Regions from separate parts of the Homo sapiens genome. Here all the other regions are linked to region 1. The links come from fine-mapping of genetic effects on gene expression. A gene starts in region 1. Each other region holds a variant in brackets. All regions are shown on one strand. Distances are between the middles of the regions. Region 1 holds the start of SLC6A11 (solute carrier family 6 member 11). Region 2 holds the start of LOC105376950 (a long non-coding RNA gene). Region 3 overlaps SLC6A11 (solute carrier family 6 member 11). Region 4 has its middle 24 kb from the start of LINC00606.

Region 1 (8,108 bases):
AACAGGAATTCCACAGCAAATAAAAAACACCACGTAGGGAATCAGGAATGCCCCTGTAAGGATGCAAAGGAATGAAATGAAAACTGTCCCTGCCGATTCATACTTGGCTCAAGAACTCTTTAATAAACATCTACTACAGGCCAGACATGATGTTCTTTGAACTTGAGTTCAAGTTCCCATTATGAAGACCAGAGTCAGAAAACAGCGCTAGGTTTCTGTAAGTCTACCTCACATCTCCAAGTCTCAACTTCTCCATCTGTAAAATGGAGCTTTAGTTTTTAATATCTGCACTGCTTCCCTCATAGAACTGTAATGCAGCTAAGATGATAATGTAAAAGAAATTGTTTCATTGGCTCATTTAAAAAAAATTTTTTACATTTCATCCTCCAGCGTGGGTCAAATTCATTCCCTCCCTGAATGTTGCACCCTTTTTCATTTTAAAGTGACCTCAACAGACCAGGTGAGGGGCACCCCTTCCTTTTACTTTGGAAGTGACTTGCAAACAATCTTTGTCATAAAGAAGAGCATTCTCAGGGAATTATACAATGAACAATATTAAGCCTCAAAGAATTAAGTACCCCTACACATGAGGCCCAGGTGTGGTGTCAACTTGCAAGGAGTTTGCAACAAGAATCTATCTAGCAAAGGCTGGCTTTGAATTGGTCCAGGAAAAGACCACCACTAAGCATTAGTGTTCCTGTCTTGAAACACAATACCCATTTCCTGGGCCTTTCTGTGAAAAAAATTAAATAACTGAGGTGAGCATGAACTATTACACCCAGAATGGGGATTTTTCCAAATCCCTCATTCTGTCCCTCCTGTCTAATAACGAAGCATGAAAACACATGCTATTTGCCACCATCTGATCTCACAAATGACGGCTTTAACTGAAAGTGCTTTTTGCCAAATGAAGTCTCCTTAACCGTAAGGATTAATAGCAACAATTTTGATGAATCCTGATAGCAGGATCATATCTATCAGGGTTTGAAAGGGTCTTAGCTTTTCTGGGCAAGCAGCTAATTTAAAGTTTCATATTGGGAAAGAAATACTTTATTGTTGGGATCTCAAAGGAGGGCAGTAAGGATGTTTTTAAAAAGGTAAACAGTTGAGAAGCAGATATCCCAACTACATTAGAAAGCAAAAAGTGTGGAAAAGGAGATAAGAGGATCTGTTTACTGAATCGAAATCTAAGTGATTAAAATCAGCTGCAGCAGGTCCCCTAACATGCTGTTATTTACCTGTGAAACCTCTAGAATCTAACGTATGACACTTTCAGAAAGCCTTTTGACCTGTGTATTCACAAAGCTACTAACCCTTAGGACAATAAACTCTACCAAACCAGGAGATCTATGAATCTCAAGAAAACTCTTGGCTAGTCAGAAAAAAAAAATGACTCATTTAAAAAACTTTACTCACTACAACCTTTTTTTTTAAAAAAAAAAAAAAAAATCTGTGACAGAATTTGTAATTAACCCAATTTACCGTGTTTTCTGCTTTTATGAATGCTTTTTGTTTTGGCACAACAATTTCCTGTATGGAAAAAAAAGATGTTAAAACAATTTGTGCCTGGGGACTACCCTAGGTGTGCACAGGTTTCCAAGTGGACGCAGCTTACAAACGCTGTATCTGCAGAGAGGCAGGATTCACAGCCGAGAGCACAGGGCACGTTGGGGGTCTCCAAGTCCACTCCCTCTCTCTCCCTTGCCAAGCCGCCAACACCAGCGGCCACTTCATTACCAGTGCAGAGCAGGCTTGGAGCAGCCTGTGCCTTCAGGATGAATGTCCCCAAAGAAAGGGCCTGGGCCAAGCAGTACCCTTCTCCCTCTCCCGGCAGCTGCTCGCACAGGAAGTCCTGCTCTGCACAGACTCATAGCCCGGTCCCTGCCAGCCAACTTCTGAGCCACCTTCGCTGGGGTTTGGGAATTTGCTGGAGGGGCAGGGGCACAGCAAAGAGAAGAGAGAATATACAGATACAGGCTCTTCCTTCGAGAAATTGTGCCACCGAAGGAGGTTTTATAAGATCCCTTGCCATGGACCCGCCCAGCTGTCCTGCCGATATGACAGGAGGGGGTCCTGAAGGCTGGAGCCCCTTCCCTGAGCTGGGAGAGTTACGGATTCGCTGCTGCATCTTTTGCCAAACTGACTTTGAGAGGCTGTCACCAGAAAGGACTCTCTCATCACTGTCCTTTCCCTCTCCCCTTCTACATCTCTATGCAGAGCATCAACATTAAACCAGTATTGCTGTTTGTCGTGGGTGACTCTCAGACCCGTAAAATAAACTGTTCGTTGTCAATTCTTCCACCAGAGGGGCCCCAAATATTGGCCCTAGAAATGGGCTTAAGAGCAGACGAAAGACTAGGCAGGAAACCATAGAGCAATGCCTCGCCTAAAAGTTCTCCCTGTTGTGAGTCCAGTCCCAGTTTAAAATAGGGCCTTTGACATCAGAATCTCATCTTTATTTTTGGTCGAGTGAGACTTCTCTGACCCTCAGTGTCCTCACCTGCAAAATGGGTAGACCCCTGCCTACGAAAGTGACTGAGAGGATGAGATGAGATGATATGGTCAAAGGTGCTCGGCACTTCAGTAAGCGCGCAAAAACTGAGACCACTTTGATCATCAGGAGTCCCTTCCCCACAGGCCGTTTTCCCAGTTAGGAAAGCTGAGGCTCCAAGGGGCCAAGTGCCCGAAACACCAGGGCGCCTACCCAAAGCAAGGGCTCCCTGGCCTCGGTCTGCATCTCATGCTGGGGACAGAACGCGGGCAAGTCCCCGCGCTGGCAGGTGGAACCCTCAGGTGCGAATTGGCACGTGCGCGTGCGCACTGGCACAGGTGGGCCGCGCTCCGGGGCGAGCTCACACGCGAGGTGCCTGGAGTCGAGGTTCTCCGCTCGGGTTCCGCTCCACGCAGGCGCGGGAGGGGGTCTCGCGCTCGCCCCTGGCTCCCCGCCCCCACCGGGCGGTTGGCGCCCCCTCCCCTTCTCCTCACTATCACCTCACCTCCTCCGTTCTTGTAGCACAGGTAGGGGAAGCGCCACACGTTGCCCAGCCCAATGATCTCCCCGGCCACGCTCAGCACGAACTCCACCTTGTTGTTCCAGTGGCCGCGCTCGTGGACCGCCTTGTCGCGCTTGACGCGCGGGTGGCGCGCGGGCGCCGCGCCCCCGCTGCTGCAGCCGCCACCCGGCGCCTCGGACTCCCGCGCCTCCTCAGCAGCCTTCCCATTGCCCAGGGGCAGCGCCTTCTCCGCCGTCATGGCCGCGCTGGCTGCCTCGTGCGCCGGCCCGGCTCTGCGCCGCCGCCCCGGGCGAGCTGGCTTTTCAGGAGGCGCGAGCGGGCGGGAGGGGGAGGCAGGGGGTGGAGCTGAGGGACCGGGCCAGACCAGCGCGGAGACTGGGACTGGGACGCGCCGCGGAGGCCCGGCCCGCAGGGCGCCCACGCCACCTCAGCCCGGCTGGGCCCGGGAGCCCGCGAGCACCTTGAGCGCGCGGAGCCCCTGCAGCGCCCGTCCTTCCCGCGGCCCTGCCCACTGGCCTGCTGGGCCAAGAGTGGAAGCGCCCATTCCGGCCTAGGCCGGCTCCACTCACCAAACCCCAAAGTTCTACCACCGTCCATAACCTTCAAATGCTTGGGCCTCGGTTTCCTGTTTCTAATAAGAGGAATGGGCTCTAGACCAGACTTCTCCAACTTGAACTACACACCAGACACCTGCGGGTCTTGTTTAAACTACACATCACGGTCTAGTAGGTCGCAGTAGGCTGAAGAGCCTGCGTGTCTGACTACCTCCCCAGGGACGCTGATATGTCTGGTCCAGGGACCACACCTTGAGGAAAAGGCAGTAAATGAATTCGTGGCTTCTTCCCAGCCCTAGACACTCTGCAGGTCTTGTTCATACTGGTGTCCGCAGCTCTCAACATAGTCAGGACCGTGTGGCAGTTAAGTGCTTGCGTCTGGAAACAGGTGAATCTAAGTTGTGTGATTTTGGCCAGTCATCTGATCCCTCTGTGCCTCAGTTTCCTGATCTGCAAAAGGTAATATCAGTAGTATCTTGTAAGTTTTAATGTAGGGGATGGATTTTTAGGTAAAAGGTTATTAAGAAATGCTTATAAAGGTCTTGATACCTTGAAAGTGCCCAATGAACATTACCCATTGTTAGTATTATACAATATGTAGACCTACACACATTTGTCCATCTTCTTGTATAATATTTGTCTCCTCACTTAGTTGTAAGGATGATATACACTGTCCTGTTCATTATAATAGCAACATAACCTAGCACAAGACTTGGTGCATAGTATGTGCTCAATAAATGTTTGTGGCTAGAGAGGAAGGGAGGAAGGTAGGAAGAGGAAAAGGGGAAGAAGGAAAGACTATTAAGCTGCTGGGGGCCACAGAGATGAACACTTCCACCTCTTCCATTGCACAGGCCTGGAAAAGTCCAGCCACATTGAGCCCCCACCAACCCTACTCTCCATCTGTCCCTCGGAGCTCCCTCTGGAGCTCTCTTAGGGACAGGCTCCTTGCTTTGAAGCCTTCAAACTCCTGCCTTCCGCTTCTCCTTTCATTCTGGCTCACAACTGCTCAAGTCGCTCCCAACCTCCATCTCCCCAGAAAGCCCTTCCTTCCACCATCTTCCCGTTTCCCCTCCCCCCACTATCATATTTCTTGAAAGAGTAAGTTGACAGGCTGCCAGCCCTGTCTTTACCTCCCACACGTTCCTTGGCCCACAGCAATCTGGCACCCACCCCCACCACTCCTCTGAAAATGCTGTGAAGTCCCGGACGCCCTCTCAATTTGGCAAATTCTACGGTTCCTTTTCCATCCCTATCCTGCCTGGCCTCTAGGTAACTTTCTGCACCATTGCTCCCTCCTTTGCTTCTTAAAATTCCCACTGGTGTGGTTTTCTTGGCATTGCCTGGCGCAGCTACCATTTCTCTCCCTGCTTCTCTGGTTCTCCTTTCTCTCTCCTTAAATTCAGCCTTTCTCATATCTTGAACCACTGAACTAAATGTGGGTGCCTCCCAAACCTCTGTCCCCATGTGCTGCCTAGGTTATGTTTAAAAGCAAAGATCCTGCGGTGTTCAGGGTGAGACTATACTGAATTCAGATGGATGTGGCTTTGCATTCAAGCTCTGCCCCTTAGGTGCTCTGTTACCTCTTTGCCTCATGCTTCTCACCTGTTAAGTGGGCTTCACATGAGTTCTGACCTCACAGGGTGGGTGTGTGGGTTAAAAGCCTCAGTAGGAGCTCTGTGAACAGTAGCTATTATTGTTGTTTATTATTATTTTTTAAAAGATGGAGTCTCACTCTGTCACCCAGGCTGGAGGTGCAATGGCACAATCTTGGCTCACTGCAACCTCCACCTCCCAGGTTCAAGCGATTCTCCAGCCTCAGCCTCCCGAGTAGCTGGGATTACAGGTGCCCACCACCACACCCAGCTAATTTTTGTATTTTTAGTAGAGATGGGGTTTCACCATGTTGGCCAGGCTGGTCTTGAACTCCTGACCTCAGGTGATCTGCCCGCCTCAGCTTCCCAAAGTGCTAGGATTACAAGCGTGAGCCACCACACCTGGCCAGTAGCTATTGTTTTTATTGTGAGGAGGAGGAGGATGGTTAGTTCATTCCCTTGCTTAAAAGCCCTAATGGGAGGCCAACAACCTGGCCAGTAGCTATTGTTTTTATTGTGAGGAGGAGGAGGATGGTTAGTTCATTCCCTTGCTTAAAAGCCCTAATGGGAGGCCAACATAGCAAGACCCTATCTTTAAAATTAAAAAAAAAAAAATACTTAGCCAGACGTGGTAGTGCACACCTACAGTCCCAACTACTCAGGAGGCTGAGGCAGGAGGATGGTATAAGCTTGAACTCCCCCAGGAGTTCTAAGCTGCAGTGAGCCATGATCATGTCACTGCATTCCAATCTGGACTATGGCACAAGACCTTGACTGCAAAAACAAACAAAAAAACCTTCATTGGACTTCCTTTTCCTACAGGATAAAACCAAATTCCTGGCCCTAATATTCAAAATTCCCCCTCAATCAAATTGTCCCAGCCTTTCCTTCTACCATTTTTGAATGCCATTTTTCTCCCACACTAAGACTTCGTTATTTTTATTTTCTTTTTGATGATCCTCAATGCTGTGTATAGAATGGGCAATAAAGGAAGGAATTTTTCTTTGACCTCAATGATCTTACACAGAGTAGGCACATAAGTAGCTAGGAGTCTATTTGTTAAACGAACAAGTACATCAAAAGTTAGACATATTCCTGGCCAGGCATGGTGGCTCACGCCTGTAATCCCAGCACTTTGGGAGGCCAAGGCAGGCGGATCACGAGGTCAGGAGATCAAGACCATCCTGGCTAACACGGTGAAACCCCATCTCTACTAAAAATATAAAAAATTAGCTGGGCGTGGTGGCAGGCACCTGTAGTCCCAGCTACTTGGGAGGCTGAGGCAGGAGAATGGCGTGAACCCAGGAGGCAGAGCTTGCAGTGAGCCGAGATCATGCCACTGCACTCCAGCCTGGGCTACAGAGCGAGACTCCGTCTCAAAAAAAAAAAAAAAGTTAGACATATTCCTGAATCTTACTATTGCAATATTAGGCTGTCACTCCAGAATCTGTGCAAAGCTCCTTTGAAACTAATTACATTTTCGCTTTGTGCTGGTGCTCAGCATAATTAGCTCCAGGAATTGACTTCCTCTGAGCAGCTGTGATTCTACCAGACCTGCTTGGGAAGTAACACTGAACCAGCATGAGAGGGCTGAAGCTGGCCATCATCTGGTCTGGGACCCAGGCCCAGTTCTGCTGATGGATGGTTCTGTGGTGTTGGATACATCGCCCAATCTCTAAGCTCTGGTGTCCTCGTTTCACTCAAATGAGCACAATTATTCCCATGTTCCAGGGTGGTCATCAAGGCAAAATGAGATCACACTCAGGGAAGAACGTTGTACAAATACTGATGTTGCAAACTCACCTCTCAGGTTTGAATGGTTCCCTTTGTAAAAGTTAGCCAGGTCAATTTCCTATTTGAATTTAGTAAGTAAATATTTAAAGTCCATCTCCTTGGTTATTTTATGGCCCTTAAAAAGCCTTGATCTTTTTACTCTGTCCTTATCCAGAAGAGCCCACATCCACTTCATCATTGCAGGACCTCATCTCTAGACCTTTGCCACTTCATCATTTCTTTGTTGAGGGACAGTGGGCTGAAGAGCACACACTGTCTGTGGGGTCGATATACAGGGATTGGGACACAAATGGGACACACATCTTATCCCCAGGGCTGGCCCTGATGCAACAGAGCACAGTGGGTAAGAATGTTGGTTCTGCAGTCACACTGCCTGGTTTCAAAGCCAACTCCAAATGACCTTGGAAAATGACTTCATGTCTCTGAGTTTTCATTTCCTTATCTGTAAAATCAGGGTAGTAGTAGTATCTACCTTTTAGTTGTCATGAGGATTAAGTGGGTTAGTATTTGTAAAGCACTTGGATTTGTGCCTGATATAGACATGTTTGTTATAAGCAGTCTTCAGGGGACAGAAATGTCATAACTCCCTTATTCCTTTCTTGGGGCAAGCACTCAATGTCTTCCATCTTCTGGAAACAGCAGCTGCTGTCCTGAGGCTCATTTAAACTTCAGCATTGCTCATTCATTCATTCATTCACCAAATGCTTTGGTTCTTTTTTTTTTTTTTTTTTTTTTTTTTTTTTTTTTTTTTTTTTTTTTGGATTTTCAGTAAAGATGGGGTTTTACCATGTTGGCCAGGCTGGTCTCAAACTCCTGACCTCAAGTGATCTGCCTGCCTTGGCCTCCCAAAGTGCTGGAATTACAGGCGTGATCTACCATGCCCGGCCTTGCTTTGGCTCTTTAATTATTTTCCAGATGCAATATCAGTCACTAGGGAGCAATACCAAGTATAAGGCCCACCTCAATGGTATGCTAGAGCTGGCTCAGACTAGCTCATGACAGCTGATTATTGCGTTTTCAGGGATTTTGCATGGCGCCATTGTTGGTGTCTTGAAATCTTCCACGGTGGTTGTATTTACACTGTGGGAATTTGCAAGTGCCACAGATCAGCCCTATGCACCCCAGCCAGTGTGCAAGCCCCATTGCAGGAT
Region 2 (8,108 bases), 110 kb before region 1:
ATGGTTTTATCAGATGGTCTTAATTTGGAGGTCATGGAGAACCTCTCCTAACCTGCAAGCCCAGCAGGGACAATGAGAAGAGGGGCACGCATAGAAGTCCCAGGCTGGTGCACATGGTGCCCAAAGGTGCCAATATCATCATGGGAGCCTCTTCTCAGAGATGCCCAGAAAAGCCTGCTTTGAACGTGAGACCACTCATAGGTAAATGCTGTAGGGGCCAGTAGCTGACGTTGTTGCTTCACCCAGAAGTTATTCTTAGGGATGGCCCAGGAGTCCATGTGCTCACCATGACAGATCAACCCAGCGTTCCCCTGGTGAGTGTGACTCCCCTCTGTGAATAACAGCCGCGGCCTTTAGCTGAGCACTTGCACATGAAGACACTGTGCTGAGGGCCTGATGAGAACTTCCATTAGATCCTCACCATGACCCGCTAGGAGGAAGCATAAACCGAGTGGCAGAGGGCACTAGACCTGACCCGGGTCACACAGCTGGTCACTTTTAGAGCTGGGAGTTGACGTCACACACCCACTTCACCCCGTGCGGCCCGAACCATGCCACTCACCTCTGTTAACATCACGAGGCCCAGAAAATAGGAGATAACAGACAAGGCTAGGATGAGCAGCTCCCGCCGGTAACCCCTCCGGAAAACCTTGGGGTACATGTCCACCACGGCGGTCACCAGGCTTTCCACACACACAAACTGGATGGGGAGATATGATGGTGTGAAACTCAAGGACAAGGCTGCTCCTGGTGGCCCAGGCTCTGGGCAAGCGCAGCAGGCCTGAACCCTGGGCTTCCTTCATTCCCACACCCATTAATGCAGACGAGGGGCCTGAGGATAACAGTCATCCCAGCACTAGCGGAGCTCCAGTCATGCCCATTTAACAGATGACGACGCTGAGGCTCAGAGGTGGGGAGTGACCTGCCCAGGATTATTCAGCAAGGACGTGGCAGTCAGGACTTGAGCTGGTGTCTCCAGACTCCAAATCTAGTACTCCTCCTTCTCCCGCATGCTGCCTGTCACATGCCTACATGCTGGGCTCTGTGCTGGGGTCGACAACTTAAATGAGACCAGCCCCTGCCCTTGAGGCAAGGCTGGGATTTCTGTGCCTGTAGTGGGAGTTACGTGCTCTGCTGATGGCAGGCTCTGGTCTGTCTCTGTGGTCTCCGGGGTTGGGACGCTTCCCTGCCCTTTCTTTCTGGCAGATGAGGCCCCTCTGCTGGTGGAGGGCAATCAGAGGTGAGCCAACTTCCAGCTCTTTGTCTCTGCTGGGTGTCTTTGGGCCCCAGCCAAACGATGCAGGCATCAGTGGCTGAGTCTGAGCCACTAAGCATCTGTATCCCGTGTGCTAAGCACAGGGCCAGGTACAAGGTATCTGCCCAGTTCCTACCCACCCATTAACAGCCAGCCTGAATATCCTAAGATACCGACCACCCCCTCACCTGGTTCTTATGGCACTGGGGGCAGATCTGCATGAACCTTTTCCTGATCACTCTTGTCCCCCACTCAGGACAGCCCATCCCTCTCCTCTGCGCCCTGAGCACACCCCTCACCCTGGGGGCCCTTTCCTGCTTATATCTGTCTCCTTACAAGCAGGTGGGATCCTGGAGGGAAGGGGCCACATCATTGTCATCTGTCTATTTCCTGTGTCTAGCTCAGGGCCCCTGGCACAGAGGAGGGAGAGGCTCAGGAAATGTTTGCTAAATTAATAATAATAACACGAATAATAGCAAACATATCATACCTGCGATGTGCCAGGCTGTTTTAGGCAGTTGGCATACATTAACTTATGTAGTCTCTACATGGTCTGTACTATTATTATTCCCATTTTGTAAATGAAGACACAGAAGCACAGAGGAGGGAGTAAGCAATTTACCCAAGGTCACCCAGGCGATAAGTGGCAAAGCCTGGATTTGAACGAGGTGATCTTGCTCCAGAGCTGGGCTTTACCCACCCCACTGCCCTGCCTTGAGGGAGGGAGGAGGAGTTAAGGGTTATTTTGCCAGCCACCTTTTTGGGAAGCACCCCTTCCCTGGAGCTATTTGTCGGCTCCAAATCCTTTCTGATTCACCTCTGCCTCCCCAGAAAAGGTGTTTCAATACTCCTTGTGCAGACAAAGGGAATGAGGCACAGAGAGGCGAGGTGACTAGCCCAAGGCACACAGCTGGCAAGTCATGGGGCTGGGACTCAAGCCCAGGCTATGGCCTCGCAGCTGCTCCGCCTCAGCAGCAAGGGCTGGCTCTGTCTATCCTTTCTCCAGGTCCTAGGGAAGAGGATGGGATGCAAAGGAGGTTGTTTATCCAGGATTGAAACTGATGAGACACTGCAGTGTGTAGGCCAAGAGGCAGACGGGCCCGGGTACACGACCGAGCAAGTCACTCAGTATCTCTGAACCTCAGTTTCTTCTTCTATAAAATGCAGACAATGAAAGGAGCCCCCAGCCCGTGTGGTTATTGTGACAATGAACTGAGAATATATCCAAGGCACACAGCAAGGGCAGCACGCATGGGGATAGGCAGAGTGGCCGCCACTTTTTGTGCCAGACCTCGGGCCCCCAGGCCCAACTGCTGGTTTAGCTCAGCCCAGGGACTCGCCGAGCCGGGGCCCCAGCCCCTGCCTCCCTCTGCCAGGCAGGCCTGGCCTGTCACGCATAAGCTGCCAATCCCTCCGAGACCTCTGCCCGCAACAGCAACAATAAGGGAAGATTATCAGCAGAAACACCCGGTGATTTGGCTTAGCAGCTTCTGGGAAACCGATCAGAGGAAGAAATTGAATTGGACTTGGCTGGCTTGACAGATATACTGGCTGTGGGGCTTGGGTGCCAAGTGACTCAACTGGCAGAAGGTCATGGGTGAGGGCGGCACTCCCACAGGCTGGGCTGGGTGTGTCTCCCTGGGGGTCTGACTGCTTTGCCTGCAGAGGCCCCTGCACAGCACAGCACTGGTTGGCCAAGAGACCCCAGTCTCCGAGGCGGGGAGGCTGTGGCTGGGGGAAGTTCTCCAGGGCTCCTAGGGAAAACAGCTGTGAGGACCAGCAGGCAAAGGGTGGGTTTCAGGGACTGTTGGGGGAATGGTCTGGGAAAGAGGCCGGGGACCTGGGATGGGAGTCTGGAGTGTGCTCAGTGCGGGAAGCGAGCGCCTGCGTGCTGTGTGGCAACAAAGGGAAACCGAGTGCATGGGTGAGTTACTAGCTCCAGGTCTACCCCCTTCGCCAGGGAAGGAGGCTGCCAAGCAGGGGGAGGTTGGCAAGGGGCCTCTAGGGAGGGCCGAGCACAGAGACAGGCAGGCGGTGGCGGGGCAGAGCTGGTGGTGGCATCCAGGACAGAGATGGAGGAAGAGGAGGTGCTTTTCTATGTGTCCGTGTCCTCAATGATTGGGTTGGGATGGGGACATGCATGCTGTGGAACTCACTCTCTGAGACTCTCTTCTGCTGTGCCAGGCAGTGCTGTTGGCAGGAGTGGTTGAGCAGAAGGGAAGTATTTAGCAAATTTTTCTAAATGTGAATTGAGAGTTGGGAATTCCGGTAAGGAAAACAGTGTTTGGGAAGGCTTAGAGGGGCCGGAACAGACATTTGTGGGTAAGTGTAGAGCCCACCTGGTGGATGGCGGGGGTGCAAGAGTTGCTGGGAGGGAAGTGGAGGGTGGAATGGGGGACGGTGGGCAGGGCCCTGATGCCAGGGCCAGGTGGGAGTGGCTGGGCCTGGGGAGCCACTCCTAAGGGTGGCGTCTGGCCTCCTGGCCCAGGCTCCCCTCCCTCCTGGGCTCCCCATCCCCATGGCCCCTTACCTGGCTGTCCAGGCCCAGGAAGATGAGCATCATGAAGAACAAGGTGGCCCACAGCGGGGAGAG[A/G]GGCATCATGGTGACCGCCTTGGGGTACGCAATAAAGGCCAGGCCGGGGCCTGGAGCGAGGGAGAGAGAGAAAGCCACTGGGTGGAGTCCCATCCCTCATATCATTGCTATTTTAATCCAGCATTTACTGAGTGCCTCCTCTGCGCCAGGCACTGTGCCTGCCTCTCACTCAAATCACTTCTGTTTCCCAGCCACCCCATGCGTTTGGTGCTATTCTGATGCCCATTTTGCAGATGAGCAAGTTGAGGCAGAAAGAGGTAAACAAGGGCCTTGGAAGGGTCAGGATTCAAGCCTAGGTTCAGCTGATCCATGGACCTTCCTCTGGACATGTCTCTACTGTTCTCAAGGGGGAAGGTGCAGTTTCTTGTTAAAATGCAGATTCTCAGGCCTACCCAGCGATTCTGACTCTGTCTGCCCAGGGGGAGGCAAGGACCAGGTACCCAGTGGTTGTGGTGTACGTAGGTCGGGTCCAGGCTGGAGAAATGCTCTTCCACCCTGGCAGCCTCTTCCTCTGGTTTCCACTCTCATTTCCAGGTCTACACTCCCTTGTTTTAGTTGCTGCACATAGAAGGCTGGGTTAACGTGTCCTCGGGATGAACTTTATCAATGTCAGCAGACAGATACCTGAGAGGCTAGCCCTGTGGCACAGTGGTCAACAGCACAGGCTCTGTAGCCAGGTGGCCTGGGCTCAAATCTGTTTTCTTAGCTGAAATATGGGGATAATAAAGTCCTATCTAAAAAAAGTGGTTTTGAGAATTCAGTGAGATGACACAATAAATGGAAAGCACTGAAGCAGGTAAATGCTTAATAGACATGAAATCTGATGATTTTTTACTTTAAAGAGCAGCTTCATTAAGGTATAATTTACATACATAGTTTGATGAAGTTTTAAAAAGTGTATACACCCAGATAACCACCACGACAATCAAGCCATGGCAATCAAGCTATAGAACACTGCCATTGGCCCCTTGAGGCCCCTTGCTGTCTCTTCGCCTCCGTTCCTCCTCTTCACGTTGGGCAACCATCAATTCAATTTTTTTTCGTCCTCGGACTAGTTTTGCCTATTCTACCTAGAAGTGGAATTGCTGGGTCATATGGCAATCATATGTTTAACGTTCTAAGAAATTCCAAACTGATTTTCAAAGTAGCTTTGCCATTTTACAGTCCTACCAGCAATGTTTCCAATTTCCAGTGGCTCCACATCCTTGTCAACACTTGATATTGTCAGTCTTTTAAGATGTGTCATTACAGTGGGAGTGAGATGTTATATCATAGTTTTCATTTGCATTTCCCTGATAGTTAATGACATCGAGTATCTTCACATGTTTATTGTCTATTCATATGTCTTCTTTTGTGAAGTGATGGCTTGATTTTTTGGTCCTTTTTTTTTCATTAGGTTGTTTTCTTTTTATTTGATTGTGAGCGTTCTTTATATGTTTAGGATGTAAATCCTTTGTCAGAGGAGTTATTACAAATATTTTCTCCCAGTCTGTGGCTTGCCTTTCCATTTTCTTAATGGCGTCTTGTGAAGAGCAGAAGTTAAAAACTTTCCAATTGTCTCCTGCTAGCATGTAAAGAAGTATAATATATTTTATCTATTTTGTCCTTTGACCTCTCTAAGTTCACTTATTACTTTTTTTGTAGGTTCCTTAGGATTTTTGACTCGGTCAGTATGTTTATCAAGAAAATTTTTATTCTTCCCTCTAATTATTTTTCTTGTTCTTGCCTTATTGCACTCTCTAGGAACTTCATTGCCATATGGTATAGAGGCAGAGACAGCATACATCCTTGCTTTGTTTCTGATTTTAGGGGAACACTTTCAATATTTAATAACTGGTAAATTAATATTGGTATAATACCATTAATTACGCCACAGAGCTTATTCATATTCTGCCAGTTTTTCTCCTTTTGCCCCCTTTTTTTCTGTTCCAACATTTAATTCAGAACTCCACATTGCGTTTATTGGTTGTATCTCTTTAGTCTTCTCCAGTCTGTGGCAGTCCCTTAGTCTTTTTTTGGTCTTTGCTAAACTCAACATTTTTGATGAGTTCTGGTTGTTGTTTTGCAGAATGTCTCTTGATGTGGGTTGGTCTGATGTTTCCTCATGACTTATGGTGAGGTTGTGCATCTTTTGGCTAGAAAACCACAGCAGTGATGTTATATCCTTTCTGGTGTATTATATCGGGGGTACATGTCAATCAATATTATTACTGGTGATGTTTACCTTGATCACTTAAGGTTAAGGTTAAACTGTTGTCTGCTAGGTTTCTCCACTATAACATTACTCTTTTTCTCTTTGTAATTGTTAACGCTCCTGCAGGAGGAAATATTTTGAGATTATGAAAAAATCCTGTTTCTACTCCAACTTTTACCTACTGATTTTAGTATCCATTGGTGGGTCTTGCCTGCAACCATGATTACAATGGTGTTTGCCTAATGGTGATTTGATATTTCCCTCATTCCTTCTATATTTATTAATTATAATTCTTCTCCAAGGAATAGCTGTCCTTTCACACCATTTATTTATTCAATTATTTATATATGTGAATGTGGACTCCTGAGTAGTTTATTCTATGGGTTAAAATCCAATACTATCATTTATTTTGCTGTTCAAGTTATTTCAGTTTTAACCATTGGGAGTTCCTTCAGGTTGATTTCCATGGCTTTTTGACAAGCCTCAAACCTTTCTTTCTGAGCACTTCCTTATTTTTTGGCATCACAAAAATGTTCTAGCTTCACCTTGTCTTGCCCTAGCCCGGAAATCAACTGTTTTGCCAAGGAGCCCTGTGTTTTTTTTTTTTTTAATTGAAGAATAGTGTTTAGAAACCAAGATCTGAGCCCTAGGTGTGCTCATAACTGTGGAGTATTATTGCTTTTAGGCCCTCTCAGCACACAAAGATAGGAAATATATGTATATTTATCCATGCATATACACATGAATATTTCTATATCTATCTGTACATAGATGAAAACCATGAATTTTAATATATTGATACTTCCAATTCCAATAAAAGACATTCTAGCATCTCTCCTTTCCTTATTTATAACTTCTTTCTCAGTGAAAAATCTGACTAATTATCTATAAAATATTTACCTATTTGTTCAATCCTAATATACACACTTACAACAGTTGTGGAATTGCTACCCCTGTACTAACTGGAGCACAGTATCGTTATTTTTGTCTTTAGCCTTAAAATATCCAGTCAAGATGCTGTTTCTCAAAGTTACATAGGTTAGTTTTTCCTTCCCCATTCCCTTTAGCATGGTGACAGTTTTCATTTGTAGTACAGTTAGGTTCATTTGTTACTGTTTGTATTCCATTTAGGGTTCCACCACAAAAAAATCATTGTTTGAGTGGTATGTGAAACATTACCAAGACTCAGAGCTAATAAAAAAAATGATATATTCAGGGAAGCACTGCTTCCTTCTCATTCTTCCTCCCTCATTCCCATTCCTCCCTTCTTTCCACCCCTTTTCCGACCACCCCTGAAGGTAACCATCCTTGTTTGTTTCTAGTTAATCCTTTCTGTATTTCTTTTGCACAAATGAGTAGACATATTTTCTCTTCTCCCCTTCTTTTTTCACATAATGGGTAGGATACTATAGATATCTGCTTTTTAAAAACTTTTACACACACACACCATTTCAAAAAGTACTCCTCAATTTCTATTTTCTTGATTATTTTATATTGTAAATGGGTGTCAAATCTTGTTAAAGGCTTTTTAAGCATTGATGAAGCTAATCTTATGTTTTTTTGTTAGATCTATTAACATGGTGCATTATATTAATGGGTCTCAATTTCATGAAATACATTGATGCTTGTTTTATGGCATAGTATATGGTCTATCTTGGTGAATGTTCCATGTCCACTGGAAAAGAATTGTGCTCTGCAGGCACTGAGTGCACTGTTTGATAAATATCAATGAAGTCATTGTGGTTGATAGTATTGTTCAGATCTCTATGTCTTTATTGACATTTCATATAATTGTTCTATCATTAGTTAAAGAGGGGTGTTAAAATCTCCAACTATGCTTGTGGATTTGTCTGTTTTCCCCTCCAGTTCTATCAGTTTTAGCTCCCTATATAACAAATCTCTGCTTTCAGGTACAAACTCATTAGGATTGTTATGTCTTCTCAATGAATTGCCCCTTTTATCAATATGAGGTGTTCCTCTTTATCTCTGCTAATATTTTTTGACTTGAAGTTTACTTTGTCCACACTAATAGTCAAGCCAGTTTTCTTATGTTTATTGTTTGAATG
Region 3 (8,108 bases), 57 kb before region 1:
GATCGCAGACTTGAAACTTCTTGCAAGCCTCATTTCCTATTTGGAAACTGTACTGATTCCATGTGTTCTGTGTTTTAACAGAAAAATGAGTGCCTGCTTGCCTGCTCAAATGTCTTTGATTAAGTTATTTCACACACTAGAATGACCTAGAGTCCTTTAAAAGATACTGACACCTGCAACCCACACCCAGAGAGTTCATTTTAATTGGTCTGGGTTATGCTCTGGGAATTAGGGTTTTCAAAAGCTCCCCAAGAGTTTCTGACGTGTAGCTGAGGTTGAGAACCACCAGGCTTGTGAGATGTTCTGTTTTTATCTGTTTAACGTATTCCAGGGCACACCACCATGTACCCACTAAGAGAACCTTAGGCACAATTACTGCCCACCATTCAGAACAACCAATGCCTTACCAAAGACAACTGATAGCTTAGCCAGTTTCTCCAACTCTTTTTTTACTACGAGCTACTCCCACAAAGAAAATCAATCATGAACAAAGACCCAGTTTCTCTCACCAAGATGCACTACTGCAGAGATCTGTGATTTGGGGCAGTAATTTTTTTTTAATTTTTAATTAACTTCTAACTGAAATTTAGTATTTGTTTCAATTTTAGATGCAGGCAATGAACTGCAGTCCTGTTAGCAATAGAAGATATTTTCATATCATGGTGTAGCTATCTTGAAATGTCACTTATGCTCATTGCTGCTTTAAAATCACAGTAGTCATCAGACTTGCTGCTGGATCTGGCTATGTAATGTCCTCGTTTTAAAATGTGCATCTATTACCATGTCACAAATTTGCCTTTTTAAAATGTTTTGGTAACGGTATTTCAAAATATTTGATTTCCTACGTATTAAATTTATGCATTTAAAATTATTCTGGGAAAGAGTCCACAGGCTTTCCACTGTTCAACCAGCTGTTGAATCTCAGTGGCCAGTGGCAGGGGCTCTGCAGAAGGCTTCCCAGTGGTGGTGGGTGATGCTGCACATTGAGCAAGCGACTCTTACCTGGGGGTCGGAGAGCCGGGAGAGGTCAGGGTACAAGTAGAACTTGATGCCCTCTGAGGCCCCGGGCAACGTGACCCCTCGTATCAGGAGGATCAGCAGCATGATGTAGGGGAATGTCGCAGTCACGTATACAACCTGTGCACAAGAGGAGAGGACAGAATCAAGAAGGGGGTGAGAGCAATGGGGTTACTTCACTCAGCACAATGTCCTTTGGGTGCATGTTGCACCAGGACCCTCTCTCCCAAGGCTGACCAGCATTCCCCCGCGTGTATAGACCACATTTGCTTGATCCATTCATCTGTACAAGCCAATCACAGAAGGACAAATACTGCATGACTCCACTCATGTGAGGTACCTAAAAGAGTCAAATTCATAGAATCAAAGAGTGGGATGGCAGTTGTGGGGAACTGGGAGGGGGGAAATGGGGCATCACTAATCAGGAGGTATACAGTTTCAGTAGTGAGATGTATCAGCTCTAGAGACCTGCTGGACAGTATTGCACCTACAGTCAACAACAATGCATTGGATACTTACAAATATGTTAAGAGGGCAGATCTCATGTTAAGTGTTCTTACCACAATAAATAAAATTAAAAAGGAAAAGGAAGCAGGGGTGATAGGAGTGGGCCACAGAGGGGGTAAAGGAAAGAAGGGCTTCCTGGTGCAGCAACAAGAAGTAACCCCTAACACGGCCTGTCCTCCTGCCTCATACCTCATCACAGGCTAGGTCTCTCAGTGCTGTCTACTGAGTGCCCGTGATGTGCTTGAGAGTGGTGCTTGTTGAATTTTTTTGACCACAACACAGAAAGAAATATACATCACAATCCAGCACACATAGAGCTGAAAAAGAAGTTTCACAACATAACACATGTGTGATACATGCTAATATTTTCTATTGTATTCTTTTTTTAAATAAGCTGGCCATGATCTTCTAAATCCACTTTAGAATTCACTGTTGGGTCAATACCCACATTTTTAAAGCCACAGCTCTTACTGAAAGTTAAGTATGCATAGTTAAAGAGAGACTAGGATAGCACAGGATAGTATAGGCTAGACTAACGTAGGATAGGATAGGATGGTATAGCATAGCATAGCATAGCATAGCGTAGCGTAGCGTAGCGTAGCATAGCATAGCGTAGCATAGCATAGGATAGCATAGCATAACATAGGATAGTGTAGCATAGCATAGCATAGGATAGCATAGAGTAGCATAGGATAACATAGCATAGGATAGGGTAGCATAGCATAGCAGAGCAGAGCATACTATAGGATAGGATAGGATAGGATAGCATAGGATAGGATAGGATAGGATAGGACAGGACAGGACAGGACAGGACAGGACAGGATAGCATGGGACGGGACGGGATAGGATAGGATAGGATAGGATAGGATAGGATAGGATAGGATGGGACGGGATAGGATAGGATAGGATAGGACGGGATAGATGGACAGGACAGGACAGGACAGGATAGGATAGGATAGCATGGCATAGGATAGGATAGGATAGGATAGCGTAGGGTAGGGTAGGGTAGGGTAGGGTAGGGTAGGATAGGATAGGATAGGACAGGATAGGATGGCATGGCATAGGATAGGATAGGATAGCATAGGGTAGGGTATGGTAGGGTAGGGTAGGATAGCATGCCATAGGATAGGATAGGATAGGATAGGATAGGATAGGATAGGATAGGATAGGATAGCATAGGATAGGATACAATAATGAAGGTGAGCATAGGGGAGGGAAAGGAAGAAAAGGGCAGAAATCTTTGGGGGCAGAAAAAACTCAGTGCCTGCCTGGAACCATTTGGGCTTGGTCCATTTGGAGGCAGGCGATTGGACCCAATGAACCCGAGAGACCCTTTTAGCTAGCAGATTCTGGATAAGAATCAAGACAGTGAAAGACACAAACCTCCTCTGAGCTTCCTCGCACAAGAGCGGCCTAGAAGGAGGCATCAAGGCCCGCAGGGACTGTAGGAGTTCCCGTCCCAGGGGCTGCTTGTGGCACCGGCCACACCCCTTAACTGAGGTCCCTGCAGGAGTCAGTGTCCTGCAAGTTCTGACTTTTCTCTTTTGTCACACTCACTCCTCCAATCACTTGGTTCTGTCCTCTCAGTGGGGCCTGCCTCCTCCGTCTGTTCAGATCAGCAACTTGTCAACATTTGGGGTCCAGGGACACTTCTGAGAATCTGAGGACCTTCCCTCCAAATGTGCTCAGATGCAGATACGCATGCAAGCTTTGGTTCAGAGACTCCAATTTCCCAGATAAAGAGTCTATGCCCTGAGACTTCCAGCTTTCTAAGTTAGCCTCTCGCTCCTGTTCAACCCAGGGTTTCTTTGACCAGTGCTTCAGTCCTCCACCCATTTGTTCATTCATGTATTCCTTTATTGACTCAGTTCATTCACCTACTCACTCACTCACTCAAACACTCTCATGTACTAAGAACTGAGCTAGGTCCTGGAAGGTAAAAATAAGACTGAATCACAGGAGGGAAATTTCTGCTTCAAGCGACTTCCAGTTGGTAGTAAAGAAAGACTTATAGACAGGAGGTCATGCCTCATGTCATCAGGGGAGCAAAAAGAATGGAAGAGCACAGACAGAGTGAGTCCCTCACTGCAAGAGCAGTCCAGAAGGGCTTCTCCAAAGAAGTGTCAGCCCATAAAGGATGATAAGGAATTCATTACTTGGAAAATGGGGATGGAAGGAAGACGGGAAAAAGACATCCTCACTCCATGCCCAGCCCTTTACACATGATAATAACAATGGCTGCATTTACTTAGCACTTCCACACATGAAACATTCAACAAGAATGAGTAGGCATGATTATCTTCTTTTTACACATGACAAAGGCCAGAGAAGTTACTCATAACTTGCCCAGGATTGCCCAGTGAATGAACGACAACCAGACATGGGGGTCATAGCAAGTCCTGCCTGACTCCAGGGTCACACATTCAACCACCAGGCTACCTATGTATGCAATCTGCAACCCTCACGACAGCCATGCAGACTCTGTGTTATTTT[T/C]CCATTTTAGAGATGAGATTTTCAGAAGAGTCAAGTCATTCCATTTGTAAATGACAAAGCAGAGATTTTAAACCCAGTCCTCAAAAATAGGAAATTAGAACCAGCAAAGGTTGGTGATAGTGGGTCCTGTGGACATAACCTGAAAGGCTGGACTATTTTATTCAGACAATGTCTCTGTTCTGCAATGATGGTAACCTCCCCAGCCCACTCATGGCCCCTGCACCACCAATTTCTGCATCCCTGTTTCCAAATCAACCATCAGCTCAATCGACATGTCAAGTAATCAACACAATCTCTTGCTATCATATGCAATGTAATCCAGAAAAGGTGCAGATCAAATATAAAAGAGCAGAAATCAATATTAATATTAATAAAAATAAGAGGCCAGTAATCAATAAGGCTTGATGGTTTCTGCAGAGAGCTAAAAGTGCTATAAAATCTCCAGTTTCACTTAGCTTTATACACAGCATCTATGATAGATCTTCGGCATTTCATATACATTCTTGATTCATTTCCTTCAAAATCACCCCCTCCCCCCCAACCAAAGCCAATCAGCTTAAGTCTATAAAACATCAGGTTGAGGCTAATAACCCATTGCTTTCATTTAGTAATTTCCACTTTTGTCTCTGTTGTGTGGCAGAAGATTAATTATCCAGAATGTCCAGGAGCTGAAGTGTTCCAGATACATAATATTTGGAACTCAGCTATCTTAATTCCCAATGCTTGCAAAATTTAAGGAAAAGAACCTTACCATGTAAAACATAAGAACAACTCAAAAATCATAAAAATTTGTCCTTCACCTGTGGGGCCACTTTGATGTGATTATGCTTGCTGGTTATGCTATGTCCAGTTTCCACTGGGTAGACTGAGCCAGTGGGGTGTCATTAAGAGGGTCACTTAAAACCTGGCCAAATGTAGCCTCACAGTTCCCAGGCACCATGTACAGAAGACTGCTCCTCAGTTACTACAGTGACATGGTTTATTATGTGGCTGATGATAATTTTGAAGCAATTCCATTGTTTAGAGTTCTGAATCGATGCTCTACTTCTACATTATATTTAGGAGAACTACATTCCCTCCACTGCTATTCACACCTTCATTTTTATACTTCTTTTATAAAACCATAAACCAAGGGAAAAGAAATCAAGGGAAATAAAATATTCAAATGAATTGCCCAAAGACCACAGTGCAGACAAAGAGTTAGGCTGCCAAAATGAAACCACTGGCTGGCAGGCATTAGCCCAGAAAAAATCATTTGTAAGCTGAGGTTTGAGAGCCTTGAGTCAGGGTACAAAAGGTGGCTTAGAGGCATCATTATGTAAGGCACACAAGTGGAGATTGGTATGAAGGTTGAAATTCAATGCTGAGGATAGCCTGTGTCTATAGCTCTTTTAAAGCCACTTTAAAAAGTGGCTCTGTAAAAGCTACTTCTAATCTGTTTCTACCCTTGGCCATGCCAGACACTTGGACATCATCTTTCACTTTTCCTGAGAACAGCTGTGCATTGTCAAAACCATACAGATTCTTGTCATCAAGAGACTGCACATAAGTGACACACATACTGCCACTCTTCCCTCTTGTGCCTTGCCAGACATCACTAATAGATCACAGCATTCTTTGCAGCTAAGCTTGGATGCAGCCTCAGAACCCTCCGCACAGCACTCCAGGCAGCCAGCCATAATCAGCTGGGATGAAACCCCTCTATCTGCTACCCTTGGTCTAGTCCATGTTTCATTTATGCTTTCTCAGACTCTCCTGCAGGTCAACAGAATGGTAAGACCTAGGTCTAGTCCTTGAGGAAGGAATTTATGCACATGAGCATCTAGGAATGAAACTCCTGGGATCATGACACCACACAATGAGGGTCACACAAGAAAAGGAGGCTATGGAGACAGGTTGGGAAGGTGCTTCCAGGGTCTCCGGGAAGGGATCCAGCCTTCTCCTGTCTGTGAACATGGGCTGGAGCTTGGTCCCCAAAGATAAGCAGGAATAGGAGAGGTTGGATCAGGCAGGGAAGATGTGGAACTAGCCAAGGACGCAGAAATAGGCAGAGGGTATTGTCTGCCCCCTCATATATTCAGGAACCTCCAGGTTGTCACTCAGGTATGCTCAGAGTTAGGTTCACCTCTCTTCTCAGCTTCCCCCACATTCAATCAGTGATCAAGTCTTGCCAACTAGATCTCCAACTACCTTCTGAAGTTACACCCCCTTTTTACCGCCATTGCTGGTGCCATTCATCACCTTTCTTCTTGGTCACTGACAGCCTATACTGTCCATACTGCAGCTGCAGTTACAAAAATAATAATCCTGCATGTCTCTTCCCTGTTCCTGAGTCTAACCTCCTCAGCCTCGCATTCAAGGTTGTGGGATATGATGAAAGGGTTGGGCTTAGAGTCGGATAACGCTGGTCCAGTCCTGGCTCTGCCTGGGCTTGCCGTGTGACTTGGCCAGTCTCCACCCTTCCCCAGACTACCAGGTTCCCTGCTATTGGGGAACGTGCCAGGCCTCTTAGGCCTCCTTGCCTTTTCTCAGTCTCTCTTTGTCCACAGAGTCCATCCCCAGCTCCTCGGCCACCCAAGACGTTTGTCCTGTGTGTGTCTGAGTCCCCACAGGCAGAGGATTCCTCCAAGTCAGGGCCCTGCCCTCCAGTTGAGAACTCATTGTCCTTTCTATCTTAAAGGTCTGGAAGACGAGGCTCAGAGTGGTCCATTTAAAATGTCTGTCTCGCTACAGAAGCCACCCTCTTAGCCTCATAAACCACACTGTCTGCCCAGATGTTGCTGAGAGGATGAATTGCCCCGTCCTCCCTGAGCCCCATCCCACATTCATCACCCCTGTCATTCCCGCATCCTCCCAGCACCTAAAGCTGCTCTCCATCAGCAATTTTCTTGCCTTGTAAGTTTAAGATTTTTACAATATAAGGGTTTGGTCTTTTATTTTCCCTGCTGCATCCACAGCACCCAGGACAGTGTATATAGCACATAAGGTGTGCTCAATACATATTTGTTGGACAGAGGAATAAAGAAGCAGGCTGAGATCTGGAACTCTGAGGTTACAATGCAGGTCATTAGGAACACTGCTTTGTGCTGCATCCATATGTGATGCTGGGTCCACATAAAAGGGGATTCAGAAAATTGAATCAGATTTTCAGAGGCATATTTATAAACAAGGACATCACAAAGGATTTGGCTTTAAAAGACAGACCAGGTCATATACAGAGGGCAGGACAGTTCAGGTGCAAGGTGCTTCCTAACAAAGTGTCCCTTTCAAGATGTCTGAGGCCCTAGAATTTGTCTGGAAGAGGCAAGAGGCCACAGCAGGGTTCAGGCATTATGCTGAACTATGCAGCATTTGGTGATGGGCCTAATAAGGTCTCTGACAAGGTACCATCAAGCCTGGCTGTTCCTGGCCACTGCCAGTAGTGGCCCAGACCCAGAAGGGTGGGCGTGGAGAAAGGAGGGTCTAATCTGTCAGAACCCTCAGTCCATGAAAGGAGGCATCACTGCCCAAAACACACCCCTTGGTTAAGAGTTTTCACTATTGTTTAATTCCCTTTTCACAGGTCAAGGCTTTCTGAATATAAAGGTTAGCACAATTGGTGGTAATTATACTGTATCCTGTTTTAATTGACGCTAATTGCTCATTTACATCCCAATACTGGGATTGTGGGGTGGTTTTCCCCCTACGCCCAGGACACGGCCATTTATTTCAGAGCAAGGAGATTGTCTGATCATTTGGAATGCCACAAACATTGTAGAAGGGCCACCCCACCCTAAGATTTCCAGGATAATGGAGTCAATTGGAAAGCCAAGTCTTGTTCAAAAGGCATCCAAAAAAGCAGGGCAGTGTGGGGCAAGAACCTAGGACCACAAAATCAGAAGATCCAATGTGCTGGGCAGCTGGGGCCAGTTCCATACCCTCTCTGGGCTGGCATTTACCATCTACGAAGAGGCAAGGATAGACTAATCCAAACTTCAATCATTCATAGCATCTTCCCAGTATTTTTTGGCCATATACACATAGCACCTTTGTATTATTTACTTAATATTATCTATATATTAGTACACTCTTTTATATTAAACAAATATACA
Region 4 (8,108 bases), 27 kb after region 1:
TCTGAGAGAGCGGGTGAGGAGGTGGGTTCTGGGAAATAGATCCGTCACCTCTGGCTGGGGAGAAGGTCCCCATCATTGGTGGCTGTTAAGCAGAGACAGCCCAAAAGTTAAACATTTAACCAGCAGGGGATTGGTAGGGTGTACCTCTGGAAGGGAATGCACTAGCAGCATGCTGCACTGGGTGTTTGACGTGGGTGCAGAAAATACTGGCCACAAGGGTGCATGGGATTGGATGACTATTGCCAAGCTACAGGGGTGGGCAAATGGTTTCCTTAAAGGACCAATAGCAAATATTTTAGGCTTTGCCATCCATAAGATTTCTGTGGCAGCAACTCAGCTCCACTGTTGTAATGCAAAAGCAACCATAGACAATATGAAAAACAAACAAAACTCTTTACAAAAGCAGGCCAAGGACCAAATTTGACACAAGGGCTGCAGTTTGCCGACTTTAATTTTACACAAAAGAAAAAGAATTAACAACTAAGGGTAAATAACGGACAGGCCGATGCCAGAGGTTCTCTTTGGTTGCATCCAAAGAAACTTTTTTTTTTTTCTAGCAGGAGAGAGAAGAAAGCCAAGGATGTAACAGAGTGAATTTTAAAGACAGTCAAATGACCAATCACGGCAGGTCTGCCAAGCTATGGTCATTGCTGTACAGCTGGTGGTTTTCTGAGAAAAAAAAAATCCAGATTGATAGAATTTGCTGATTTCCCACATTATTTGCATATTCCAAGCCACCATGGTGACCTCACTGAACACAGTTGGCGCCAGATGCTCAGAACTGGCTCTCACTGATGGCACAAGCCAGCTTCCTGCACATCATTGCTTCACTCACATCCCAGCCTTCCTGCCTTTGTCCATCTGTTCCCCACTGCCTTGGAAGCTCTTCCCCGTTGCTTTTCTCATAGCAGGCTCCTCCTCACTCTCCAGCTCTCAGCCAAACATCCCTTCCTCCAAGGAGCCCTCCCTGACTGACCAACCCAGCCAGATTCTCTCTCCAGCACTCTGTTGTTTTCCATCACAGCACTTTCCACAGTAAGCCAAGCCAATCTTTTTGTTTTTTAAGTGTGACATACATATATAAGAAAAGTGTAGGATCACAGTGGTACAGCTGGGTGAATTTTCACAGGGTGAACACACCTTCATAACCAGAACCCAGATTAAGTCATGGAGCAGGGCCAGCACCCGGAGCCCCCTTCACATATCCTCTCAGTCACTACCGCTCCTGAGAGTGGCTACTACCTTGAGTTCCAACATTGTAGATTACTCTTCCCTGGGTATGAGCTTTATGTAAATGGAATCCTACCATATGTACTCTTTGGTATCTGGCTCTTTTTCTCAACATTATAACCACATGGTTGAGCTTCCTCCACGTAGTTATGGTTTTGTTTGTTTCCATGACGTGAAGATACTGCCATTTATTTATTCTGTAGTTTGATGGCCATTTGAATCATTTCTGGTTTTGGCTGATAGTGCAAGTGCTACTGTGAATATTTCTATGTGTCTTTCAGTGAACGCATGCACACATTTCTGTTGGGTATATACCCAAGAAGCAGAAATGTTAAATCATGGAGTATATGTATGCTCAGTTTAGTCAATTCTGCTAGAGTTTTCACAATGGTTATATGTCAACACCTAACAGTAATGTAGGAGAGTTCCATTTGCTCCTTGTTCTTGTCAACACTTGGTGTTGTCTGCCTTTTCCATTTTAGTCATTCTCCTGGGTGTGTAACAGTATTGTTTTGGGTTTTTAATTTACCTTTTTATATTTATCTGAGGGTAATGACATTTAGCACATTTCATATGTCTATTGACCATTTAGATATTACCCTTTGTGGAATGCTTGTTGAGGTTGCCTGTCCATTTTTCCATTGGGCTGTTTGCCTTTTTTTTTTTTTTGAGACAGAGTCTCTCTCTGTCCCCCAGGCTGGAGTGCAGTGGCGTGATCTCGGCTCACTGCAAGCTCCACCTCCCAGGTTCATGCCATTCTCCTGCCTCAGCCTCCCAAGCAGCTGGGACTACAGGCACCGGCCACAACGCCCGGCTAATTTTTTGCATTTTTAGTAGAGATGGGGTTTCACCGTGTTAGCCAGGATGGTCTCGATGTTTGCCTTTTAAATTTACTTTTTGGCTGGGCGCGGTGGCTCATGCCTGTAATCCCAGCACTTTAGGAGGCCGAGGCAGGCGGATCACAAGGTCAGGAGATCAAGACCATCCTGGCTAACACGGTGAAACCCCGTCTCTACTAAAAATACAAAAAATTAGCCGGGCATGGTGGCAGGTGCCTGTAGTCCCAGCTACTTGGGAGGCTGAGGCAGGAGAATGGCGTGAGGCAGGAGAATGGCGTGAACCCGGGAGGCGGAGCTTGCAGTGAGCCGAGATCGCGCCACTGCACTCCAGCCTGGGCGACAGAGCGAGACTCTGTCTCAAAAAAAAAAAAAAAAAAAATACTAAAAATAAATAAATAAATAAATTTACTTTTTATACGAATTCTTATTAAATTCTGAGTATGAGTTTCATCGGATATATGTAACACAAATATCTTCTCCCACTGTGTGTCTTTCCTTTCCAATATTTTAATTACTTATAATGAAATGCAATTCATCATTTTTTTCAAGTTTTGTGCTTTTTTTCAGTTTAAGAAATCTTTGCATACTCAGGGGTGTATATATTTTCTCTTATGTTTTCCTCTAAAAGTTATATTGTTTTGCCTTTCATATTTAGAATGTGAACCATCTGGAATTGACTTTTGTGTATGTTATGAGCTAGGAGGCAAGATTATTTTTTTCTATGTGGATATCTAATTACGCTAGCAGCCTTTATTGAAAAAACATCCTTTCTTGACTTAATTACAGTGACACTTGTGTAACCATATACATGTGGTTCTCTTCAAGACCCTCTGTTCCATCAGTCTATTTGTTCATTCTTGTGCCAATACCACACTGTCTTAACTACTGTAGTTTTTTTACTAGGTCTTAAAATCTAGTAACATAAGTCCACCAAACTTTGTCTTATTCTTTAACATTATCCTAACTATCCTAGATATTTTGCATTTCCATATACATTTTAAAAATAATTTCTCAATTTCCACCCCTTCAACCCACTGGGGATTTTGATTGCAATTGTGCTGAATCTGTAGATCACTCAGAGGATGATTGACATCTTGAAAATATTGAGTCTTCCTATCATTAACACGGAATATCTTTCCATTTTTGTATGTTCTCTTTAATTTCTCCCAGTCATGTTTTCTAACTTTCAATGCAGAGGGATTGCACATCTTTTATTCGATTTATTTTCAGGTATTTGACATTTTTGGTGCTCTTACAAATGGTATTTTTAAAATTTCATCTTCCCAGTGCTTGTTGCTTAATATATAAAAATACAGATGAATACAATTAATTTTTACAGCTTAAGGTATAATTAAGCTGTAAAATAGAATACAATTAATTTTTACAGCTTAATTAATGTATAATTAAGGTACAAAAGAACTGCACATGACTGAAGTATACAGCTGGGGAATTTCGAGGAACATAACACACTATGAAACGTCACACAATCAAGATAATGCAGACGTGCATCATCCCCAGAGGTTTCCTTGTGCCACTTTGCT[G/A]TCCACACTCCTATCCCTTATGTTGCTTCATGTATCAATAGTTGTTGCTGAGTGTTCAGATATAACACAATTCACTTATCCATTCATGTGCTGATGAACATTTTAACTATTTCCACACTGGGGCTGTTAAAAATAAAGCAGCTATGAACATTCATGCATAAGACTTACAGTGGATATTTACTTTCATTTCTCTTGTCTTGGGTAAAAATACCTAGGAATGAGATGACTAGGGTCATAGAGGTATGTTTAACAGTTTAAGAAACTGCAATCTCTTTTCCAGAGTGACTATGTCGTTTTGCACTCTCACTAGCAGAGTGAAATTTCCAGTTGCCTCATATCCTTGCTAACATTTGGAGTGGTCAGTCTTAATTTTAGTCATTCTATTGGCTGCATAGTGATATCTATCTCATGGTGGTATGAAATTGCATTTCCCCAATGACTAATGATGTTGAGCACCTTTTCATACACTTATTTGCTACTAGAATATCTTTGGTGAAGTGTCAATTCAAACCTCTTGGCTATCTCTAATTGGGTTGTAGATGCAAGTCCTTTGTTGGATGTATATTTTGCTAATATTTTCTCCCAGTCTGTAGCATGCCTTTTCATTTTTCTAATAGTATCCATTGAGGAGCAACAGTTTTAAATTTTGAAAGAGTCCAATTAGCCTATTTTTTCCCCTTTATAGTGTGTGCCTTCTATGTCCTTTTAAATAAATCTTTGCCAAATCCAAGGTCACTAAGGTTTTCTTTCACCGTTTCTTCTAGTGATTTATAGTTTTAGCTTTTACATATAAGTCTATTATCCATTTTGAGTTAATGCCTATACATAGAGTAATATGGTAAGAACATGGGTTCAATTTTTGCTTTTGAATATTCAATTGTTCAAGGACTATATGTTGAAAAGATATCCTTTCCCCCATTGAACTTCCTTAGCACCTTCATTGAAAATCAATTGACCATACATCTGAGGGTCTATTTTTGGATTTTTCTCTTCTGTTCCATTGAAGTTGTATCTTTTGCCAATACCACACTGCCTCGATTACAGTGTGAGTCATAATAAGTCTTGAAATCAGATAGGCTAAGTCATCCAACTTTATTCTTTTTCAAAATTACTTTGGGTATTCTAGGTCCTCTGATTTCCATATGACTTTTATAATAAATTTGTCAAATTTCTCCAAAAAAATCCTTCTTGGGTTTTGACTGGGATAGATTATATCTTTAGAACAATTTGGGAAGAATTGGCATCTTAACAATATTTTGTTTTCCAGTTCATGAATATCATGTATTTCTCCATCTACTTAATTTGTCTCAGCAGTGTTTTGTAGTTTTTGATGTACACGACTTGTGTATCAGTTTTTTCAAATCTATCACAAAGTATTTCATATTTTTTGATGTTATTGTTAAGTTTTTTAAAAAAAATTTCAATTCCAAATTGTTTCTTGCTGGTATATAAAAGTATAATTAATTGTTGTATGTTAGCTTTGTATCCTGTAATCTTTTTAAACTCATTGATTAGTTCTAGTATTTTTTTGTATAGTCCTAAGGATTTTCTACAAAGATAGAATGTTGGCATGCAAATAAGTAGAGTTGTACTTCTTCCTTTTCAAACTGTACGTTTCTTTTTATTGCCTTTTTGTACTGGCTAGAACTTCCAGTATAAAGTGGAATAGAAATAGAGGGACTGCACATCCTTGCCCCTGTTCTGATCTTAGTGGGGAAATTAGTCTTTCGCCACTAAGTATGATGATGTTAGCTAGGTTTTTATAGATCATCTTTATCAAGTTGAAGAAGTTTCTTTCTATTCATAGTTTCTGTCATAAATGGTTGTTGAATTATGTCAATTTTTTAATTTCTTATTTTTTGCATCTATTGAGATGATTATATGCTTGCACTCTTTTTTGGTCTCTTTTAGTCTTTAAGTATGGTGAATTAATTTATTTTTAGTTGTAAAACCAACCTTACATTCTTGGAATAAACTTTACTTGGTCATAATCTTTTTATATATTATAGTTATGATTTATTAAAATTTTATACTTTTATAAGGATGTTTATGAAAGATACTAATCTGTAGTTTTTCTCCTCTTCCTCCTCCTTCTTTTTCTTCTTGTAATGTCTTCAATTTTGCTGTTGAGTTAATGCTGACCTCATGTAATTTTTTGGGAAGTGATCCTTTCTATTCAATTTTCTGGAAGAGTTTGTATAGAATTGGTATTATCTTTCTTAAATGCCTCATAGAATTTACCAGTAAAGCCATCTGGGTCTGGAGTTTTCTTTGTGGGAAGGATTTTAACTACAAATTCAAGTTATTTAATAGGCACAGGGCTATTTAGGATATAAATTTATTCTTCAGTAAGCTTTGGTAATTTGTGTCTTTCAAGAAATTTTCCACTTGATCTAAGTTGTTAAATGTATTGGTATATGATTGTATATAATATTCCTCTAATAACTTTACTATCAATAGGATCTGTAGTGATGTCCCCTCTCTCATTTCTGTATTAATTTATCTCTTCTCTTCTTTAATTTTTTTGATTAATCTGGCTTGAGGTTCATCACTTTTGTTGATCTTAAAAAGGGATTTTGATTGCCTTTATTATTTATTATTTTTCTGTTTTCTATTTCGTTGATCTTTTTAACTTTATCTTTTTTCTGTTTATTTTTTATTTGCATTTATGTTCTTATTCTAGGTTATTAAGCTAGAAGCTAGGTCATAGAACCTGTCTTCTTTTTTAAGTATAAATGTTATACTTATTATAAAATTAGCACATTAGTATAAATTTATTAGTATAAAATTTTATTTAAGCACTGTTTTAGCTGCAACTCACACATTTTGATATGTTGTGTTTTTATTTTCATTCAGTTCAAAATATTTTCTAATTTTCCTTGTAATTTCTCCTTTGACCCATAGCTTAATTAGAACTTTGTTGCTTAGTATTTTAATATTTTGGAATTTTCCATATTCTTTCCATATTGATTTATAATTTAATTCCATTGTGATTTAAGAATGTGATTTACATAATTTAAATTATTTTACATTTATTAATTTTTTGTATTGATTTTGTATCTAGTGACCTTGAAAATTTCACTTATTTATTCTAATTATTTGCTTTGGCCCTGAGGTTGGGAGCAAGGTTATGAACATCCTTACATTATTCCCAACCACAGGGGAAAAAGTACAATATTTCATTATTAAATGCAACATTTCATCATGTTAGGTGTGGATATCTTGTACACATGCATTATCTGTTTAAAGAAGTTCCTTTCTATTCCTAATGCTGAGAGATTTTTATCATGAATAGGTGTTAATTTTCTCAAGGGCTTTTTTTTCTAAATCTCTTGAGATTTTTTTCTGTTAGTATGGTAAAATACATTGATATTTGAATGTTAAGTCGCTCTTGCATTTTTAAATTAAACCTCACTCAGTTATGCTGTTATCCTTTTATATATATCACTGTATATAAATTTGCTAATATTTTGTTTCTGATTTTGCATCTGTATTCAAGATAAATATTGGCCTATAATGGTCTTTGCTGGTAATATCTTTGTCAGTTTTGGGTATCAGGTGTATGCTTGTCTCAAAATAAAAAGGCAGGAAATGTTCCCTCTTTGTTTTCTGGAAAAGACAATGTAAGATTGGCATTTTCTAAAGTGTAGGAAGAGTTGTCTTTAAAATAAAAAAAGAAAAAGAATATAGGACTGCTCAGATTCACTATTTCTGTTTTTGTTTCAGCAAGTTGTGTTTTTCAAGGGATGATGGCATAACATGCCCCTTTCAGCATGATAGCATGAACATCAGCTCCCTGTTAAGTTTCCTGAACCAGAGAGCTTGCTCTAGCTTATCAACACACAACTGTGGCCAATAGGCAAGTCCAGAAAAGTCATCTCAACATTTTGGGGGAAAATATTACAGGAGTGTGTGACAACATTTCACTTGTTGTTAAGCGTATGCTTAAAGGTTGTTGTTGGTTTCCAGCAGGGTGGGGATATATTTTAGAGTGCCTGAGGCATTCCTTTGCTAAGCCTATCTTCTGTGCTAAGATAGAATGGAAAATATAGGTTGCTAGAAGTCTCTCAACTTCCAAGGAAAACTGTTGTACATGTTCACACTACCAGGAGTGATCAGGAGAGTTGACCTTTTGGTTGGTAAAGAACCAGTCTAGAAATCACTTCCGCCAATCACCCCAAATACTCAGGCCAAGAATTTCCTGGGTGCTGTTAAAATAGTGCATGTCAGAAAATAATTCTCTAGGATCTGAGGGTGATGCTAGCAAGGTCAGGTTCAGAAACAAGTGCAGGCCAAGCCATGAGTCCCTCAGCTAAACTCACCTCCTAACAGAGGGCACTCTGCCCAGCAGCCTGCGCAACCCTCTCATTTAGGAAGCAGGGACTGTCCTAAGTTCTCAGGGTCACGGAGTGAGCCATCTTTGGCTGGAACAGGGCAAATGTCAGGGCAGCAATTTTACCCACTCATTGGTCCTGGGTCACTACTGAGGTATTAGGGC

Evidence for each region. PIP is the estimated chance that this variant, and not a neighbour inherited with it, causes the effect. A credible set is the group of variants that fine-mapping cannot tell apart.
Region 2: its variant is the best candidate, but not a certain one, in a credible set for the expression of SLC6A11 in esophagus mucosa (GTEx, PIP 0.67).
Region 3: its variant is the best candidate, but not a certain one, in a credible set for the expression of SLC6A11 in uterus (GTEx, PIP 0.80).
Region 4: its variant is the best candidate, but not a certain one, in a credible set for the expression of SLC6A11 in unexposed skin (GTEx, PIP 0.81).

The regions. Positions count from the first base shown.
Region 1 is chr3:10,811,410-10,819,517 of GRCh38, reverse strand. SLC6A11 (solute carrier family 6 member 11) reads right to left here and starts at 3,290. Exons shown (of 14, transcript NM_014229.3): 1 at 2,997-3,290; 2 at 1-53. The coding sequence starts at 3,252.
Region 2 is chr3:10,921,794-10,929,901 of GRCh38, reverse strand. SLC6A11 (solute carrier family 6 member 11) reads right to left here. Exons shown (of 14, transcript NM_014229.3): 9 at 3,786-3,898; 10 at 563-700. It overlaps LOC105376950 (a long non-coding RNA gene), which reads left to right and starts at 1,177. Exons shown (of 3, transcript XR_940587.3): 1 at 1,177-3,045. The variant A/G (reference allele first, on the strand shown) is at 3,849.
Region 3 is chr3:10,867,990-10,876,097 of GRCh38, reverse strand. SLC6A11 (solute carrier family 6 member 11) reads right to left here. Exons shown (of 14, transcript NM_014229.3): 6 at 1,003-1,137. Among named protein-coding and RNA genes, the nearest start is that of SLC6A11, 56 kb to the right of the region's middle. The variant T/C (reference allele first, on the strand shown) is at 4,018.
Region 4 is chr3:10,784,484-10,792,591 of GRCh38, reverse strand. No RefSeq gene overlaps it. Among named protein-coding and RNA genes, the nearest start is that of LINC00606, 24 kb to the right of the region's middle. The variant G/A (reference allele first, on the strand shown) is at 3,611.